2 separate regions of the Homo sapiens genome follow, and region 2 is linked to region 1. The links come from fine-mapping of genetic effects on gene expression. A gene starts in region 1. The other region holds a variant in brackets. All regions are shown on one strand. Distances are from middle to middle.

Region 1 (10,600 bases):
CTACGAGGGTCCCCTCTGCTGAACGCCAGCCTCATCCCCTCCAACCCCTCCTCTCACCCTGCCCCAGACTGATCCAGCAAAATGGAGATCCAACCACACTCCTCTCGGCTGCAAAGCCTACAGCGTGCTGCTACGGCACTGCGGCAGGGATGACGCTTGAAGACGACATGCAAAGTGAACGAGGCCAGGAACACAGGCCTCATACTGTATGATTCCATTTATCATTTCATGTCCAGAATAGGCAGATCTAGAGAAACAGAAAGGAGATGAGTGGTTGCTCAGGGCTGGGAGGGGCAGGGATGGAGAGTGACAGCTGAAGGGGACAGGGTTTCTTTCTTTCTTTTCTTTCTTTCTTTCTTTCTTTTTTTTTTTGAGACAGAATCTTGCTCTGTCGCCCAGGCTGGAGTGCAGTGGCACCATCTCAGCTCACTGTAAGCTCCGCCTCCCGGATTCACGCCATTCTCCTGCCTCAGCCTCCTGAGTAGCTGGGACTACAGGCGCCCACTGCCACCATGCCCGGCTAATTTTTTGCATTTTTAGTAGAGATGGGGATTCACCGTGTTAGCCAGGATGGTGTCAATCTCCTGACCTCGTGATCTGCCCGCCTCGGCCTCCCAAAGTGCTGGGATTACAGGCATGACCACCACTCCCGGCCCTTTATTTTATTTTATTTTTTTTGAGATAGAATCTCACTCTGTTACTCAGGCTGGAGTATAGTGGCTGGATCTCGGCTCACTGCAACCTCTGCCTCCAGGGTTCAAGTGATTCTCCTGCCTCAGCCTCCCGAGTAGCTGGGATTGCAGGCACATGACACCACACCTGGCTAATTTTTTTGTATTTTTAGTAGAGATGGGGTTGCACCATGTTGGCCAGGCTGGTCTCGAACTCCTGATCTCAGGAGATCCACCCGCCTCGGCCTCCCAAAGTGCTGGGATTACAGGCATGAGCCACTGCGCCCGGCCAGGGTACAGGGTTTCTTTTGGAGATGAGGCAAATGTTCCAAATTGACTGCGGTTGTTGCACCTGTCTGTGAATACACTTTAGATGGGTGCATCATATGGTATGTGAGTTATATCTCAACAAAGCCATTTCTAAAACACCAGGATGGCTTCCTGCCTCCCCCGGGAGGCTCCCCGCTGCCACTTACGTACCCATTATCCTGTAAGAGCCCCACACCCTCCTGGTGTTGTTCTGAAGCACTGGGTGTGGCCCGTCTCATTTCACCCCCTCACGGCTCTCTCGTGCAGGCATTGAGGTTATACCCATTTTGCAGATGGGAATGCCAGGGAGAAGAGCCGTTTGAATGACTTTCCCAGCTCATTATCTTAACTTTATGTCTACCACGGGCACTTCTGGAAATATGTCATAAGAATCTGTTTAAGAGTTCCTTCCTGCCGGACTGGAGGTTCTGGGGAATTGGCAACAGTGTCTGGTTAGCAATGTATTCCCTGTGCCCAGCCTGGTATTCATCACACCTGACTCAAAAACGTAAAAGGGGCCGAGTGTGGTGGGCACTTGCCTGTAATCCCAGCACTTTGGGCGGCCGAGGTGGGAGGATCACCTGAGATCAGGAGTTTGAGACCAGCCTGACCAACATGGAGAAACCCCGTCTCTACTAAAAATACAAAAATTAGCCAGGCATGGTGGCCAGCGCCTGTAATGCCAGCTACTTGGGAGGCTGAGGCAGGAGAATTGCATGAACCTGGGAGACGGAGTTTGCAGTGAGCCAAGATCGCACCATTGCACTCCAGCCTGGGCGACAGAGCGAGGCTCCGTTTCAAATAAAACAAAACAAAACCTTTAAAGAATATAGAAACAGGCCAGGTTCAGTGGCTCACACCTGTAATCCCAGCCCTTTCGGAGGCCGAGGTGGGTGGATCACGAGGTCGGGAGTTCAAGACCAGCCTGGCCAACATGGTAAAACCCCGTCTCTACTAAAAATACAAAAATTAGCCAGGTGTGGTGGTGGGCTCCTGTAATCCCAGCTACTCAGGAGGCTGAGGCAAGAGAACTGCTTGAACCTGGGAGGCAGAGGTTGCAGTGAGCCGAGATCGCACCATTGCACTCCAGCCTGGGTGACAGAGCAAGACTCTGTCTTAAAATATATATACATATACGTACATATATACATATATACGCATATGTACATATACGTACATATATGTACATATATACGCATATGTACATATACGTACATATATGTACATATACGTGCATATATGTACATATACGTACATATACGTGCATATACGTACATATACGCACGTGTATACGTACATATACGCACGTGTACACGTACATATACGCACGTGTATACGTACATATATGCACGTGTATACGTACATATATGCGTGTATATGTACATATGTGCATTTATGTGTACACATATACGTATATATGTACATATATGTATATATGTGTATACATGTACATATGTGTACATATGTGTGTATATATGTACATATGTATATGTACATATGTGTATATCTGTATATATGTACATATATGTACACGTGTGCATATATGTACATGTATGTGCATATATGTACATGTATGTATATGTATATATAGAAACTCACTGGGGCAGGTTCTGTGGTCTCATTGCCTTGGGCTTAGGCTCTGTTTGTCAGAGGCAGGTCCTGCCCAGCCTGCACCCTGCCACCCCACCAGGAGATGGATTCCAGCAGCTGTTTTCTCCTGAGCCCTTGGGTAGCTTCCCTCCCCAAATCCAGTTTCCCCTCCTGGGGCCTTTCCCTGTAACCAAGAGGCAGGCCCTGCCCACAGCCACTGGCTGCACCCCTGGGTCCTGGCTTTACCTGCAAGCGGTCCCCAGGTACAGCAGGCATCACAGAGAGCTGCCCGGAAGGCCCCTGCCCGGCCCTGCTTCCACAGCCCATGCCAAGTCCCTCAGACTCAGGAAGGCTGCCAGTGCCCCCTGATGTCCTGAAAGGTAGTACTGGCTTTGGTGGGATGGGGAAGGCTTCCCTGCTGGGAGACTGGGCCTCCCTGAGGTAGACAGAGTGGTTTGAAGAAATAGGAGCTTTCTCAGAGGACAGCTCCTGGGGGTTCGGTGATGGTGACTCTGCAGGGAGTCACTCTTGGGAACCCCCCTCCACACCTAGTCCTCTGGCCCTGACCAGCCTGGGCCAGCAGTTTTCTACCCCCTGCCCCTGACCTCACTCTGAAATCATTGCTGAGCCCTGCTTCTCCCTCTCCCCACCCTTTCATAACTCTCGCTTCTTCCTGGACTTCAAAAGTCACTTGCCAATATCTGCTGACATTTTCTATGGAATCCTTTATAAGTAGCTCTACCCAAAGGGCTTGGGTTGGAGACAATCTAAGACAATTCATTCAAAATCCCATGGAAGTACAGACCCGGCCCCATGCCCCTTCCTGGGCATGGCAGGCCATGCCCTCTGACTCTCACATTTTTCACTTGTGACCCAGACCTCCCCTGCCCTGAAGACGAGGCTGAAGTCAGCGTAGCTGTGGAGCTGCAGAGGGCTCCGGAGGGAACTCCACGCCTCGGGAGGAGCAGTCTGCCAGCTCTCCCCGCTTTGTGCGCCCCTCGGGGGAGCCTGGCCCCGGAGCCCTCAGGGTACGGCAGGGAAGCCGCTGCGACTCTTGGAAACCGGAGCCGGCAGAGGCTGGGAGCATGTCCAGGTGGCCTGGGAGGACACATGGGCGCTGGGACCCCCGTCCGGTGCAACCTCTGCTGAGACAGCCCCACTTGGCGATGACCCTTTGGGACCGCCCGTCCCTCCTAAAACAGCAAGACCCCCAGCCTGGCTATCTTTCTGCCCCGCGGGATGTATCGCCAGGCAGCTCCCTGAGGGCCCCTCCCCAGCAGACACAGGTGCAAAGTCGAGCTCTGATGCCCAGAAGCAGAGATGAGAGAACAGAGCAGGAGCTCTTCCAGCCCCGGGGCCCCTCTCTAAGAGGAAGGAGGAGGCCAGTGAGGAAAGGAGTCTTCCCCAAGCCCCCCACTCCCAGCTCTCTCTTCTCCACACCCTGGGCAGTGTTTGGTGCCTGCCTGGGGGAAACACCTGCCGACCCCTGGGCCCAGCCCCTGCCCCTGGAACAAAGACCAGCACTTACCATGATGGAAATGATGAGGGGGATGAGGTTGAGGGGCCAGACGGGGCAGAAGCAGGCGACGACGGCCAGGATGAGGTAATCTCTGGGGGCTTCTTGGTCTTGGGCATAGGAGGTGGTGGCGATGGAGGACGCCCTCCTTGAGCTGGCCCGGGAGGGGGACCGAGGCAGTGGGGCCTCCAGGTGCCCCTCGGAGATGGCCTTGAAGGGTAGGCCCTGGCTGTTCTGCTCCAGATCCAGAGGCCCCGAGAGGGTCTTGGACAGATTCAGGGTCTTGTCATCCTTGTTCTCTGCCTTGGTGAGGAGTATCTCCATCTCCGGCAGGTCCAGGAATGCGGCGGAGCCTGGCTCCTGTGCTGAAGGAAACTCGGACTGCACCGGGTGGGCCATGGGGGCCTGGGCCTTGCGCGGCTGCAGCTCCAGGCTGGGACAAGGGGCTCTGGAGGGACCTCAGCGCGCCATTCCCCAGCCCAGACTGAGGGCCTCCAGGTCGGGGGCAGGGGCGTCCCTCAGGAGACGGAGGGCCGGCTGGGTGCTGGAAGGGTTGGGCTGAGCTTCTCAAGCCAGCTGAGTTCAGAGGCTGGGGCCTGCCTGCTGCCCCCGCGGAGCTCCCAGAAAGACGCTGGAGCCTGCAGCTTTGTTCAAGTTTGAGGCCAACTTTGCTGGTGCTGCTGAGAGCACAGATGGGCAGGGAAGCAACGGAAAGCTCAGAGAGCAGAGAGAAGAATGCGCCTCTTCCCAGGGAGGCTCAGGCTCAGTCAGGGAGGCTGTGTGTGTGTGTGTGTGTGTGTGTGTGTGTGTGTGCGTGTGCGCACACGGCCTCCCTCCCTCTCCCCCTCCTTGGTGATGCTTTTCCTTTTCAATTCCCCTCTCCCCAGAGAACCACCCTGGCAGGATTTTGCCTCTGCCCCAGCCCAGCCCAGCCCAGCCCAGCTCTGCCCAGCCCAGCCCAGCCCAGCCCAGAGGGACTTGGGCCAGCCTCCGGTTTCTGTTGCAGCTCCAGGGCCTGCTCCTCTGGGCAGGGTCTCTGGATGGGGAGAAAGACACTTTGGGCCCCACAGGGATGTGTCTTCAGCTGTCCTGGGAACTGAGCCCTCCGCTGCTTCTTCCAAAGCAAGCGTGTACTTCTTTCTTTCTGTTGGGAAATGCTGGACCTTAGGGCCCCCTATTACATCCCACCCAGACCCTGACCCCCAACCGCTGGGAGCATCCAGGCCAAAGCCTGGCTCCCGACTCCAGAAGGGAAGGGGAGATGTGAGCACCAGGGTAGCCCCTGGATCCTGCCTGGACCCTGCATGGACCAGCAGGGCCCCATGAGTAGGTTTCTACGTAGCTCACCACCAGGTGGGGAAGAGGATAAGGGGGAGTGTTGGGTCCACCTCATGCCCATCAGAACGATTCTGGGGTGCTAAAGAGCCGGTGGCAGAGAGCCCCTAGGTCAGCTGCTCCGGGCAGATGCCAGCTCGGAAGGGCCTCAGGCTGTTTGTCCTATCGGATTCTCCTCCTTTGTTCTCTCTTAGGTTTTCTCCCTCTGTCTCTGCCTTCTTCTCTATCCTCGGCATCTCTTTCTATATTCCTGACGCCCCTCCTTACATTGTTTTACAAGTGTGATCTGGAGCCGCCACGGATGTGTGTGTGTGGTTTGAAAGTGGTTGTATGAAATAGTTTAAAATCCTACGATCAGGCGGGATGCCATGGCTCATGCCCATAAACCCAGCACTTCGGGAGGCCGAGGCAGAAGGACTGCTTTAGCCCAGGAGTTTGACACCAGCCTGGGCAACATGGCAAAATCCCATCTCTACAAAAAATACAAAAAATATATGGGCGTGGTGGTACATGCCTGTAATCCCAGCTACTTGGGAGGCTGAGGGAGGAGAATCGCTTGAGCCTGGGAGGTCCAGGCTGCAGTGAGCCGAGATCCTGCCGCACAGCTCAGTGGGAGATATGGGGCTGAAAGGACACCTGGAAATGAATAAGATTTGAAAACTCAGCCGGGCACGGTGACTCATGCCTGTAATCCCAGCACTTTGGGAGGCTGAGGCAGGTGGATCACTTGAGGTCAGCAGTTCGAGACCAGCCTGGCCATCATGGCAAAACCCTGTCTCTACTAAAAATACAAAAATTAGCGTGGTGGTGGGTGCCTGTAACCACAGCTACTTTGGAGACTGAGGCAGGAGAATCACTTGAACCTGGGAAGAAGCGAACGTTGCAGTGAGCCAAGGTTGCACCACTGCACTCCAGCCTGGGTGACAGAATGAGACTCCAACTAAAAACAAACAAACAAACAAACAAATAAAAAACAATGTTTGTGGCTTTGGGAGAACTTTGCAGGTTTCATAAATTTGACTATATTAAATTAAGAATTTTGCTCAGGCTGGGCATGGTGGCTCACGCCTGTAATCCCAGCACTTTGGGAGGCCAAGGTGGGCAGATCACGAGGTCAGGAGATTGAGACCATCCTGACCAATGTGGTGAAACCCCGTCTCTACTAGAAATACAAAAATTAGCTGGGTGTGGTGGCACATGCCTGTAATCCCAGCTACTCAGGAGGCTGAGGCAGGAGAATTGCTTGAACCCGGGAGGCAGAGGTTGCAGTGAGTGGAGATCATGCCACTACACTCCAGCCTGGGTGACAGAGTGAGACTCCTCTCAAAAAAATAAAAGAGAGAGAGAGAGAGAATTGTGCTCAATAAAGGAAACCCATTGTTATTTGCAAAATGAAGACCTTGGGGAGCCGCCTCGTCCTCCTCTCAGTCCTCAGGGAGGCCAGGTGTGGGGCCTGGGAGCGAGCTGGGCTCCCCTGCTTATGAGCGTCCAGAAATACGATAATCCTGTATAACAGGAAAGCTCCTTCACAGGGTGGCTAGGTGGGTCCCTGAGACCCCTTAGGCTCCAAGCCGGTATCCAGTTGGGCAGAATGCCATGGTACAGCCTTGGAGCTGACCCCTGGGTGGAGGGACGACAGCTACCCAGCCCAATTCGGTAGCCCCTAGCCACATGTGGCTTCCGAGCCCTTGAAATGTGACTCATCCAAGTTGAGATGTAAAATACACACAAGACATCGAAAACTGGGTCCAAACACAAAAAGAATGGAAAATATCTCATTAATACTTTTTATTGATTGTATATTGAAAGGATAATATTTTGGATATATTGGGATAAATAAAACGTTATTAAAATCAACATTATTGATTTCATCTGCTTATTTTTACGTTCTAAAAATGTGCCTAGTAGAAAATTAAAAAAATTTTTTTTTGAGACAGAATCTCGCTCTGTCACCAAGCTGGAGTGCAGTGGCGCGATCTCGGCTCACTGCAACCTCCGCCTCCCAGGTTCAAGCGATTCTCCGGCCTCAGCCTCCTGAGTATCTGGGATTACAGGCATGCACCACCACGCCTGGCTAATTTTTGTATTTTTAGTAGAGATGGGGTTTTACCATGTTGGCCAGGCTGGTCCCAAACTCCTGAACTCAGGTGATTCACCCGCCTCTGCCTCCCAAAGTTCTGGGATTACAGGCATGAGCCACCGCGCCCGGCCTCAACACATGATTTTAAAAATTCATTTCATATAAAAATTGGGGTTTCAGGCTGGGCACGGTGGCTCACGAGATAGAGTCTTGCTCTGTTGCCCAGGCTGGAGTGCAGTGTTGTGATCTTGGCTCTAGGCTTGCTGCAACCTCTGCCTCCCGGGTTCAAGCGATTCTCCTACCTCAGCCTCCCGAGTAGCTGGGATTACAGGCATCCACCACCACGTCCGGCTAATTTTTGTATTTTTAGTAGAGACAGGGTTTCGCCATGTTGGCCAGGCTAGTCTTGAACTCCTGACCTCAGGTGATCTGCCCACCTCGGCCTCCCAAAGTGCAGGGATAACAGGCGTGAGCCACCGCACCCGGCTATATGTTAAATTCTTGATGGAATAAAAGGAGGAAAGAAAAAACTAAGAAGTCCCCAGAGTAGTCCCTGGCACGAGGTTGCCTGGGCGGGCTGGGGTCGGGGGTAATTAGGGACCCACGTTTGCTCCGCCCGTGTGGGATGCTGGAGTCTCAGCGCCACCTCGTGGCAGGTAGTGATGAGGGGAATGACCAGAGTGGAGGGAGCCCGAGGGAGGCAGCAGCGGATTTGGGCTCCCGGCGGTGACCCCAACCTTTGAGCACCCTACATGCGAGGGATGCTGAGAGAGGACAGGGATGTGAACAGTGCGGGGGAGTGGACCTGCCCATGAGGGGTCCTTTGGGGGGTGAGGTGGGGCGGGGAAGAAACCTCAGAAGCATAAGCAAGTTCAAGCCGAAGCCCAGGGGAAGGAGAAACATCCTCCTCATATCTCTGCCCCACAGCCCTTTCATCCTTGGCGTCTCACTGGGTGTCAGGAAACCCTACGGGGCTGACAGGGAAGGTGCAATTGAGCCAATTCCTCTTCTCACTGAAGCCTTCCTGGGCCCCGTTCAGGAGTTCTGCTCCAGGAGTGAGAGAGTAGCCTCCTGACATCTGTGTACACACACACACACACACACACTCTCACACACTCTCTCTCACACACACACTCTCACACTCTCATACACTCACCCCACACACTCTCACACACTCACACACTCACACACTCACCCCCACACACATTCACACACCCTCAGTCACCCCCACACACTCACACACACTCACACACTCACCCACACACCCCCCCCACACACACATTCACACACACTCACACACTCACACACTCGCCCCACACACATTCACACACCCTCACACTCAGTCACCCCACACACTCACACACACTCATACACTCACCCCCCACACACTCACACACTCACACACTCACCCCACACACATTCACACACCCTCACAATCACCCCCACACACTCACCCCCACACACATTCACACACCCTCACACACACACTCACACACTCACCCCCACACACATTCACACACCCTCACTCACACACACACAGTCACCCCCACACACATTCACTCACACACACTCGCACACTCATTCACACACACACACGCACGTCCTTTTGTAAAGTGTGATAAACATTGACGTAATCGTGCGCCCATCAGCAAGCACCCCAGAATTTCACATCCAGGGAGGCGGGTCCACCTGAAGGAACCCACTGGGGATGCGTCTCCTTTCTGTCCTTGCTCAAAACACATCCCTACTCCTCTTGGGAGTTTTCCTAAGGAGACTGATCTTGCACTTTTTTTTTTTTGACACCAAATCTCACTCTGTTGCCCAGGCTGGAGTGCAGTGGTGCTATCTCGGCTCACTGCAACCTCCGCCTTCTGGGTTTCAAGTGATTCTCCTGCCTCAGCCTCCTCCCAAGTAGCTGGGATTACAGGCTCCTGCCACCATGCCTGGCTAATTTTTGTTTGTTTAGTGGAGACGGGGTTTCGCCATGTTGGCTGGGCCTAATTTTTCACCTTTTAAAATAACAATGATGAAGACTCTAATGAAAATTAGGCCGGGCGCGGTGGCTCATTTCTGTAATCCCAGCACTTTGGGAGGCTGAGGCGGGCGGATCACGAGGTCGGGAGACCATCCTGGCTAACACAGTGAAACCCCGTCTCTACTAAAAATATGAAAAAAAATGATCCGGGCGTGGTGGCGGGCGCCTGTAGTCCCAGCTACTCGGGAGGCTGAGGCAGGAGAATGGCGTGAACCCGGGAGGCAGAGCTTGCAGTGAGCCAAGATCACGCCACTGCACTCCAGCCTGGGCGACAGAGCGAGACTCCATCTCAAAAAAAAAAAAAAAAAAAAAAAAAAGAAAGAAAAAAAGAAAGAAAATTAAGGCCAGGCCCCTCATACCTGTAATGCCAGCACTTTGGGAGGCTAAGGCAGGAGGATCACTTGAGCCCCAGGTATTTGAGACCAGCCTGGGCAACATGGCAAAACCCCATCTTTACAAAAAATACAAAAATTAGCCGGCATGGTGGCACACGCCTGTATTCTCAGCTACTAGGAAGGCTGAGGTGGGAGGATCACGTGAGCCCAGGAGGTCAAGGCTACAGTGAGCCATGGCTTGGCGGCTCTGTCTTACACGTGCGTCTTTCCTTCCTGGCATTTTCCTTTCTCTATGCATTTCATGCCTATCATTGTGCCTTTTAAACAATATTTGGGCAAACCCATGTGATCTCAGTGGAAACCACCATTTTTTAATAATCATAAAATCTTTTCTTCACCACATATAAGTCATCTTGGAGAATGGACACGATCTTGGGAAGCAGACAGAAAAATCAAGCAAGGGTTCCAGAAAACCTCAACAGCACGTAACGGAGGCTACACAGGCCCAGGATCCCCTGCGGCATCAGAGAGATGAGGAAGCACCTGTTAGGTTGATACGTATATAGATACCCACACAAATATCCACGCAGCCACACATCTATGTGAGCACACACAAAATATGTACATATCACAAACTCAGAATCCTAGGCAAACATACAGCACCCAAACACACAGCCCCGGAAAAACCATGCTAGCAGCCAATGTGTCCCAGACTTTACAGTTGATAAA
Region 2 (10,600 bases), 37 kb before region 1:
GGTGGTTTTGATAAATAGAGGTTATGAATTTTAATGTAACCCAATGTATCCATGTTTTTCCTTTGTGGGTAGTGTTTTGTATCCTGTTAAGGAAACTTTGCCTGCGCCCAGTGCCATGAAGATAGTCTCCGGCGTTTTTTTTCTAGAAGCTGTATTATTTTGCTTTTCAATTTAGAACTATAAATATTCTGCAACTAATTATGATGTATAATTTGAGGCAGGGGTCAAGATTCATTTTTCCATATGGATATGCAATTGATCCAGCACCATATGAGAAGGTCATCCTTTTTTTTTTTTTTTTTTTTTTTTTTTAGACAAAGTCTCGCTCTTGTCCCCCCAGGCTGGAGAGCAATGGTGTAATCTTGGCTCACTGCAACCTCCGCCTCCCAGGTTCAAGCGATTCTCCTGCCTCAGCCTCCCTAGTGGCTGGGACTACAGACGTGTGCCATCATGCCCAGCTAATTTTTGTATTTTTAGTAGAGACACGGTTTCACTATGTTGGCCAGGCTGGTCTCAAACCCCTGACCTCAGCCGATCCGCCCGCCTCAGCCTCCCAAAGTGCTGGGATTACAGGCGTGAGCCACTGCGCCTAGCCTCATCCTTTCTTTACTGTACTGACGCACCAATTTTGTCATGAACGAAGCAGTTGTCCCGAGTCTCCTTCTGGATTTCTCATTCTTTTCCATTGGTCTATTTTTCTTTTCTTTTTTTTTTTGAGACGGAGTCTCGCTCTGTCGCCCAGGCTGGAGTGCAGTGGTGTGATCTCGGCTCACTGCAAGCTCCGTCTCCCGGGTTTACACCATTCTCCTGCGTCAGCCTCCCAAGTAGCTGGGATTACAGGCGTGAGCCACTGCCCCCAGCCCTCCATTGGTCTATTTTTCTGTCCTGGAGAAAACACCACTCTGTTTTAATTACTATAACTTTACAATAAGTCCTGATATCTGGTAATAGGTCCTGCGGATTTGTTCTTTATCCTCAAAGTTATCTTGGCTATTCTTGATCCTTTGCATTTTTTTTTTCTTTTCCGAGACAGAGTCTCGCTCTGTCACCCAGGCTGGAGTGCAGTGGTGTGATCTCGGCTCACTGCAACCTCCACCTCCCGGGTTCAAGCAATTCTCCTGCCTCAGCCTCCTGAGTAGCTGGGATTAGGGGCATGCACCACCATGTCTGGCTAATTTTTGTGTTTTCAGTAGAGTCGGGGATTCACCATCTTGGCCAGGCTGGTCTGGAACTCCTGACCTCAGGTGATCCTCCCACCTCTGCCTTCCAAAGTGCTGGGCTTACAGGAGTGAGCCACTGAGCCTGGCTGGTCCTTTGCATTTTTATATAAATTGTGGAATCACTTTGTCAGCTTCCAAGAAAAACTTGCTGGATTTTGATTGGCGTTACACTAAATATATAGATCAACTGGAGGAGAATGAACATCTTTACAATATTGAATCTTGAGTTCATGTCTTGATATTTCTCTCCATTTATTTTGGTCTTGCCAATATTTCAGTGTCTTTTACTGGCAGGTCCTGATGCCTGTCTGATCAGTGTCCGTATGTTCATTCCATTTTTATCCTCCCTGTTATTGGGGACAATCAGGAGGATATAAAACTGTAGGCTTATAACTCATACCCGTTAGAATGGCTACCATCAAAAAACAAAACAGAGGCCAGGTGCGGTGGCTCACACCTGTAATCCCAGCACTTTGAGAGGCCGAGGTGGGTGGATCACGAGGTCAGGAAATTGAGACCTCCCTGGCTAACATGGTGAAACCCTGTCTCTACTAAAACTACAAAAAATTAGCTGGGCATGGTGGTGGGCACCTGTAGCCTAGCTACTCGGGAGGCTGAGGCAGGAGAATGGCGTGAACCTGGGAGGCGGAGTTGCAGTGAGCCAAGATAGCGCCACTGCACTCCAGCCTGGGCAACAGAGCGAGATTCCATCTCAAAAAACAAACAACAAACCAGAGGCCAGGCATGGTGGCTCACACCTGTAATCCTGGCACTTTGAGAGGCCAATGTGGGCAGATCATTTGAGCCCAGGAACTTGAGCCTGGGAAACAGAAGGCTCTACATCTCTACAAATAATAAAAAATTAGTCAGGTGTGGTGGCATGTGCCTGTGGTCCCAGCGACTCAGAGGGCTGAGGTGGGAGGATTGCTTGAGCCCAGGAGGTCGAGGCTGCAGTGACCCGTGATCACGCCACTGCCCTCCAGCCCAAGAAACAGAGCAAGATCGTGTCTCCAAAAAAAAAAAGTATTGGCTGGGCGCGGTGGCTCACGCCTATAATCCCAGCACTTTGGGAGGCCAAAGCAGGCGGATCACTAGAGGTCAGGAGTTCAAGACCAGCCTGGCCAACATGGTGAGACCCCGTCTCTACTAAAGGTACAAAAATCAGCCAGGCGTCGTGGCGGACGGCTGTAATGCCAACTACTCGGGAGGCTGAGGCAGGGGAATCACTTGAATCTGGGGAGGAGGAGGTTGCAGTGAGCTGAGATTGCACCACTGCACTCCAGCCTGGGCGACAGAGTGGGACTCCATCTCAATAAATAAATAAATAAATAAATAAATAAATAAATAAATAAATAAGTGCTGGTGAGGATGCTGAGGCACTAGAACCCCTGTGCACCGTCGGTTGGAATGCACAATAGTGCAGTCACTATGGAAAACAGTAAGGCAAGTCCTCAAAAAGTTAAAAATAGAATTACCATGTGATCCAGCAGTTCCGCTTCTGGGTATATGCCCAGAAGAATTGAAAGCGGGATCTCAAAAAGATCTTTGCAAGCCCATGTTCACAGCAGTATTATATTTACAATAGCCAAAAGGTGGGCTGGGCGAGGCGGCTCATGCCTATAATCCCAGCACTTTGGGAGGCCGAGGCGGGCCAATCAGCTGAGGTCGGGAGTTCGAGACCAGCCTGACCAACCTGGCGAAACCCCGTCTATACTAAAAATACAAGAAATTAGCGGGGCGTGGTGGCTCATGCCTGTAATCCCAGCTACTTGGGAGGCTGAGGCAGGAGAATCACTTGACTCTGGGAGGTGGGGGTTGCAGTGAGCCTAGATCGACCCGTGGCACTCCAGCCTGGCCAAGAAAAGCGAAACTCCATTTCAATAAATAAATACATAAATAAAATAGGTTGTCATGGGTCAAATGAAATGTATGTGAAAGTAAGTGGCACATAGTAGATGTTCAATAAATGTGAGCTGAGGCCAGGCGCAGTGGCTCATGCCTGTAATCCCAGCACTTTGGGAGGCCAAGGGAGGTGGATCACCTGAGGTCAAGAGGAGTTCGAGACCAGCTTGTACAATATGGTGAAACCCTGTCTCTACTAAAAATACAAAAATTAGCTGGGTGTGGTGGTGGGCACCTGTAATCCCAGCTACTTGGGAGGCTGAGACAGGAGAATCGCTTGAACCCGGGAGGCGGAGGTTGCAGTGAGCAGTGATCGCGCCACTGCACTGCAGCCTGGGCAACAGAGTGAGAATCTGTCTCAAAAAAAAAAAAAAAAAAAAAAGAGAAAGAGCTGAATGTGAGCAAAATGGAGCTTCTGAGAGTAGAACAGCGTAGCTCGTGGTTTTCCCCCAGAAAATTAGCACTGAGGATAAGATTGACATTTTTGGTGAAAATAAAAATACAGTACTTACTGTGGATTTAATTCATCTGTGCCTAGCCTGTCTGAACTTTATTTTTTATTCTTTTAATGTTTTTATGTATTTTTTGAGACAGGGTCTTGCTCTGTCACCCAGGCTGGAGTGCAGTGGCGCAATCACGGCTCACTGCAGCCTCCAACTCCTGGACTCAAATGAATCTCCCTCCTCAGACTCCTAAGTAGCTGGGACTACGGTATGCACCACTATGCTTGGCTCATATTTTTTTGCATTTTTTTGTAGAGAAGGGATCTCCCTGGGTTCCCCAGGCTGGTCTCAAACTCTGAGGCTCAAGTGATCCTCCTGCCTCGGCCTCCCAAAGTTCTGGGATTACAGGTGTGAGCCACTGTGCCTGGCCCAGTTTATCTGAAGTGATGGAGAGATTGGTGAACTATTACTACATTTTTCTTTTTTCTTTCTTTCTTTCTTTTTTTTTTAATGGAGTTTCACTCTTTTTGCCCAGGCTGGAGTGCAGTGGGGCGATCTCGGCTCATTGCAACCTCCGCCTCCCGGGTTCCAGCGATTTTCCTGCCTCAGCCTCCTGAGTAACTGGAATTACAGGTGCCCACCACCATGCCTGGCTAATTTTATATTTTTAGTAGAGACAGGGTTTCACTATGTTGGCCAGGGTGGTCTCGAACTCCTGACCTCATGATCCACCCTTTTTGGCCTCCCAAAGTGTTGGGATTACAGGCATGAGCCACCAAGCCCGGCTTCCTATGTGTTTTCATAGGGTCTTTAAACTCCTGACTTTGAACTCCCAGGAGACCTGTGACTCACCTAATTAATCAGCTAGCCAAAGCTTTTTGTTAGATTCAATCTTGTGAAATCCATTTTCTTATCAGCACAAACTAGGGCTTTTGATAAAACAATATCCAAATGAAAAGGACTTTTAGGCCTCCCAAGATGTGCTTCACAGCCTCTTTTTAATTGAAAGCCTTTTACAAATGTAACCCATATTTCTGATTTGATCTTTTTCTAAAAGATGAAGCTTTTATTATTATATCTGGTTCCCATTCTAATTCCACTCTTACCAGCTGCAAGCTCCTGAGCAGGTTCTCGCTTCTGCACAAACCAACCCCAGGGGCCGGGCGCGGCGGCTCACGCCTGTAATCCCAGCACTTTGGGAGGCCGAGGAGGGTGGATCACTTGAGGCCAGGAGTTCGAGACCAGCCTGGCCAACATGGTGAAACCCCATCTCTACTAAAAATATAAACATTAGCCGGGCCCAGTGGTGAGTGCCTGTAATTCCAGCTACTTGGGAGGCTAAGGCAGGAGAATCACTTGAACCCGGGAGGTGGAGGTTGCAGTGAGCCAGGATCGCGCCACTGCGCTCCAGCCTGGGTGACAGAGCCAGACTCCGTCTCAAAAAAAAAAAAAAAACCCACTTAGAGAAATTGTTGTTTTCTTCTTCAGGCTTTTCGCATTTTCCAAGTTTGCTGCAATGACGTTGTATTAATTTTGCAATTGGAATGAAATTAAGAAAGGAAAAAACCCACTCCACACCCCTGGGCAAAGTCACCCAGGAGGGAGAAGGTTCACAGCCAGGCAGTGGGAATGTGGAGGCTGTGGGCTGGTGAGAGGTTTTCCCTGCCATTTCCCCCCCTTTCTGTCCTGTCGCTATTATGTTGCTCTTATAATTAAACCCGCTGTGCAGGGAGC[C/T]GCTGATCTTGGTCGCCTGGGGTGTGTGTTTACCTCCTGCCTGTTTAAGCAGCCCATGAGTGGCTCCCACGGGCCATGATGAAAACATGAGTTCCTCCAGCTCGGTTCCCCTGGGAGGGCAGCCGGGCCCTGCCTGGAACCTCGTGTTCCCCTCTCCAGGGAGCGTCTGTAGACCCTGGAATGTCTGCACGGGCTAACAACCAGAGGGAGCCAAGCCTGGGACCTCTGTACCCTGAGACCTCAGTGCCCTGGGACTTCCCAAAGACCCAACAGGTGGATGAGTTCTGGGAAGACTGTGGGGTCTGGTTTTAAGGGTGAGAGCAAATCACACTGGCCCGTTCTTAGATCCGGGTTCAATCCCATTACCTGGATTTTCCAGCATCCGTGGTGCCTGTTCACTGGATATCCTGTACAGCCACGGGCCCCCTGAGTGGCTTAGGAGGTCGGAAAGGGCCTCTGACCTCAGCAGGGAACCAGGAGGTAGACGCATCCATTTTCCCCACTGGCCAGGCTGGAGCTGGCAGCCCTGCCTCCAACTGGGGCAATGGGAGGGCAGGCTGATAGCAAAGGAGACGCTGGAGGCAAGAGCCCGACCAAAGCATCCAGCTCCAGGGCGAGGGCCAAGAGCAAGAACCAGATCCAAAGCAAAGGTCAGGAAGACGGGAGCCTGGGGAGGGCAGCGGGGGAGAGGCTTTTCTGGAGAGCTCTGTCCTGGAGGGAGAGGAAGCTTTTTTTTTTTGAGATGGAGTCTCACTCTGTCACCAGGCTGGAGTGCAATGGCGCGATCTCGGCTCACTGCAACCTCCACCTCCCGGGTTCAAGCGATCCCCCTGTCTCAGCCTCCCGAATAGCTGGGACTACAGGCGTGTGCCACCACACCCAGCTAATATTTATATTTTTAGTAGAGACGGGGTTTCACCATGTTGGCCAGGATGGTCTTGATTTCTTGACCTCATGATCCGCCCGCCTCGGCCTCTCAAAGTGCTGGGATTACAGGCGTGAGCCACCGTGCCCGGCCGGGGAGAGGGAGCTTCTCAGGGCTTCCAGCCCCTCCAGCAGCTCAGGCCGCCTGGTGTTTTGGTGTCATTTCAGTCAGGTGAGGCTGATGCATCTTAAGGAGGCAGGTTTGTGGGAGATAGAAGGGATCTGCTACTTAAAAGCCCCTCGAAGTCCAGCTACCATGCAAAGGCCACTTACTAGAGCCCTTTTATTATAAAGCGACTATAGCTGTATGTCACAAATTTCTTTTTAAAAGCCCGGAAGAAAAATGTTCAGCTCTTCACATTGATTGCTTCAGCTAATGGATTACAGGGAATCATCTGTTCTCCCTCAGACATTCCTATTTTTTCAATTAAATTATAAATGATAAAGGTAATACATCTATAAATGCTTGGTGTAAGGTTCCAACGAAACAAGGTATATGGGATAAAAACTGGAGACTGCCTTTCTCACCTCCAGTCCCATAGCGACTCCCCCAGCCATGAGCGACGGCTGGTATCAGTTTGGTGCAGAGAACTTAGATGGGGTTTCTGTTTTGTTTTAAATAAGTTTAAAGAGTGAATCTCTTCACGCCTGTATCCAGCACTTTGGGAGGCTGAGGCTGGTGGATCACGACATCAGGAGATCAGACCATCCTGGCTAACACAGTGAAACCCCGTCTCTACTAAAAATACAAAAAATTAGCCGAGCATAGTGGTGGGTGCCTGTAGTCCCAGCTATTCGGGAGGCTGAGGCAGGAGAATGGCATGAACCCGGGAGGCGGAGTTTGCAGTGAGCCAAGATCGTGCCACTGCACTCCAGCCTGGGTGACAGAGCGAGACTCCATCTCAAAAAAAAAAAAAAAAAAAAAAGAGTGAATCTCACATGGGCTGGGGAGCACAGAAAATTCTTGCGGAGGATGGTTGCCCGAGAGAGTCAGGGCAAGCATAATGTTTTGTTTTAAATAAGTTTAAAGAGTGAACCTCGGCCGGGCACGGTAGCTCATGCCTGTAATCCCAGCACTTTGGGAGGCCGAGGTGGGCAGACCATGAGGTCAGGAGTTCGAGACCATCCTGGCCAACATGGTGAAACCCCGTCTCTACTAAAAATACAAAAATTAGCCGGGCGTGGTGGAAGATGCCTGTTATCCCAGCTACTCAGGAGGCTGAGGCAGGAGAATTGCTTGAACCCGGGAGGCGGAGGTTGCAATGAGCCAAGATCGCACCACTGCACCCCAGCGTAGGCAACAGAGCTAGACTCCATCTTGGAGGAAGGAAAAAAAAAACAAAGTGAATCTGACATGGGCCAGGGAGCACAGAAAGTTCTTGCGGATGATGGTTGCCCTAGAGAGTCAGGGCAAGCGTTGCAACATCAGACAGGGGCCTCTGGGACCTGGTCCTTGCACCATAGTCTTGCTCCTGCATTCCTGGAAATGTCCCAAGAAGACCAGGCTCTCCTCTCACCCAGAAACACCTTCCCCTGACAGTCAACTGTGTACAAGGGCACCCTCTTGCCACTTCCTTGAGGAACATAAAATTCAAACCAAATTGAGAAATTTGTGGAAGAAAAGCCTCTATCCAGTGAAAAACAAGTGGGGAAACTTTGAAAACACCAGCACATACGAAGGCAGGAACGAGGGCTCATCTGCTTCTGGCGACCCAGCCTCCAATCTGCCCTTTGCACTAGGGAACATTCCCACTGCGGAGGTGAGAGCATTCCCACTGGGGAGATGAGAACATTCCCACTGGGGAGGTGAGAGCATTCCCACTGGGGAGGTGAACATTCCCACTGGGGAGGTGAGAACATTCCCACTGGGGAGGTGAGAGCATTCCCACTGGGGAGGGGAACATTCCCACTGGGGAGGGAGCATTCCCACTAGGGAGGTGAACATTCCCACTGGGGAGGTGAGAACATTCCCACTGGGGAGGTGAGAACATTCCCACTGGGGAGGTGAACATTCCCACTGGGGAGGTGAGAACATTCCCACTGGGGAGGTGAGAACATTCCCACTGGGGAGGTGAGAGCATTCCCACTGGGGAGGGGAACATTCCCACTGGGGAGGTGAGAGCATTCCCACTGGGGAGGGGAACATTCCCACTGGGGAGGTGAGAGCATTCCCACTGGAGAGGTGAGAGCATTCCCACTGGAGAGGTGAGAGCATTCCCACTGGGGAGGGAGCATTCCCACTAGGGAGGTGAACATTCCCACTGGGGAGGTGAGAGCATTCCCACTGGGGAGGGGAGAGCATTCCCACTGGCGAGGTGAGAGCATTCCCACTGGGGAGGTGAGAGCATTCCCACTGGGGAGGTGAGAGCATTCCTACTGGGGCAGAGAGCAGATTGGAGGCTGGGACTTCCCAAAGCCCCCAACAGATGGATGAGTTCTGGGAAGACTGTGGGGGTCTGGTTTTACAGGTGAGAGCAAATCACACTTGCTTATTATTAGATCCAGGTTCAATCCCATTACCCAGATTTTCCAGCATCCGTGGTGCCTCTTCACCGGATATCTCGCTACAGCCACCGGTCCTCCAAATGGCTTACCACGAAGGAAAGGGGCTCTGTCTGAGGCTTCTGGCTGAGACCTGTGTTCATCTGGCACTTTCCAAAGGCAGTTTAGCCCCCCATTCCCAGGGGGTCCCCCAGCCATCTGGTCTGGTCAGCCCCAGTGTCCCAGGCTCCCAGCCACCTGGCCCTGGGGCTTCCACGTCTAGCCCCATCCCAGGAGCACCCTCCCTCTTCCAGGCCTGTGTGGTTGCCATGGCGACCCAGTCAGCTGACCCAGTGAGGAGGCAAAGCCCAGGCTGCCTTCTTCTCCCTGGCTCAGGAGTGGGTGGACCCAGTGGGGCCTCCACAGCAAGGGCTGCTTTTGAAGCACCTTCAGAATTCACTCCCCCAGTGCCTAAACCCTGTGTTTAAATTATAGGTAGGGAGCGGGCACAGTGGCTCACGCCTGTAATCCCAGCACTTTGGGAGGCCGAGGCGGGCGGACCATCTGAGGTCAGGAGTTCAAGACCAGCCTGGACAACGTGGTGAAACCCCGTCTCTACTAAAAATACAAAAATTAGCCGGGCGTGGTGGTGCATGCCTGTAGTCCCACCTACTTGGGAGGCTGAGGCAGGAGAATCGCTCGAACCCGGGAGGCGGAGGCTATGGTGAGCCAAGATCTCGCCATTGCACTCCAGCCTGGGCAAGGGTGAAACTCTATCTCAAAACAACAACATCAAAAATTATAGGCAGGAAAAAAATGGGAGAGAGAGAAACTGGACACCTTAATGCCTCACAATGGGAGAAAGGATAAGTAAATAAATAAGTTATCATGTATATGCATTATCCAGCCGTCTTAAAAGGATGTTTACAGATAATTTTTTGTATACAGAGTTTTTAATAACGGAAATACTTGGGTTTGCAAATCTAAAACTTAGCTTTACAAGAAAATATTTCTCAAAGAAGGGGCTTGGCAACCCATCGAATTTAGGAAATACTGCATAATCCACCCTTTCTTGGAGGTACATGGTGCACGTGGGTGTATGAAGGTCTCTGAGAAATCTTACTGTCATGCTCCGTTTAGCTCGACGTAATTCACGGTTTTCCTGACTGTCTGATGACAGCGTGTAGCTCGATGTCATTCCGTTTTCCTGATCTGTCTGATGACAGCGTGTAGCTCGATGTCATTCCGTTTTCCTGATCTGTCTGATGACAGCGTGTAGCTCGATGTCATTCCGTTTTCCTGATCTGTCTGATGACAGCGTGTAGCTCGATGTCATTCCGTTTTCCTGATCTGTCTGATGACAGCGTGTAGCTCGATGTCATTCCGTTTTCCTGATCTGTCTGATGACAGCGTGTAGCTCGATGTCATTCCGTTTTCCTGATCTGTCTGATGACAGCGTGTAGCTCGATGTCATTCCGTTTTCCTGATCTGTCTGATGACAGCGTGTAGCTCGATGTCATTCCGTTTTCCTGATCTGTCTGATGACAGCGTGTAGCTCGATGTCATTCCGTTTTCCTGATCTGTCTGATGACAGCGTGTAGCTCGATGTCATTCCGTTTTCCTGATCTGTCTGATGACAGCGTGTAGCTCGATGTCATTCCGTTTTCCTGATCTGTCTGATGACAGCGTGTAGCTCGATGTCATTCCGTTTTCCTGATCTGTCTGATGACAGCGTGTAGCTCGATGTCATTCCGTTTTCCTGATCTGTCTGATGACAGCGTGTAGCTCGATGTCATTCCGTTTCCCTGATCTGTCTGATGACAGCGTGTAGCTCGATGTCATTCCGTTTTCCTGATCTGTCTGATGACAGCGTGTAGCTCGATGTCATTCCGTTTT

Which allele goes with the higher level. Positions count from the first base shown, and alleles are read on the strand shown. Sizes are in standard deviations (SD) of each study's normalised expression.
As copies of C replace T in region 2, the expression in tibial artery of the gene that starts at base 4,825 in region 1 goes up (moderate effect, 0.43 SD a copy in GTEx).

Evidence for each region. PIP is the estimated chance that this variant, and not a neighbour inherited with it, causes the effect.
Region 2: its variant is fine-mapped to the expression of TRARG1 in tibial artery (GTEx, PIP above 0.99).

Annotation. Positions count from the first base shown.
Region 1 is chr17:1,273,887-1,284,486 of GRCh38, reverse strand. TRARG1 (trafficking regulator of GLUT4 (SLC2A4) 1 (gene/pseudogene)) reads right to left here and starts at 4,825. Exons shown (of 3, transcript NM_172367.3): 1 at 4,099-4,825. The coding sequence starts at 4,485.
Region 2 is chr17:1,310,896-1,321,495 of GRCh38, reverse strand. No RefSeq gene overlaps it. Among named protein-coding and RNA genes, the nearest start is that of TRARG1, 37 kb to the right of the region's middle. The variant C/T (reference allele first, on the strand shown) is at 5,300.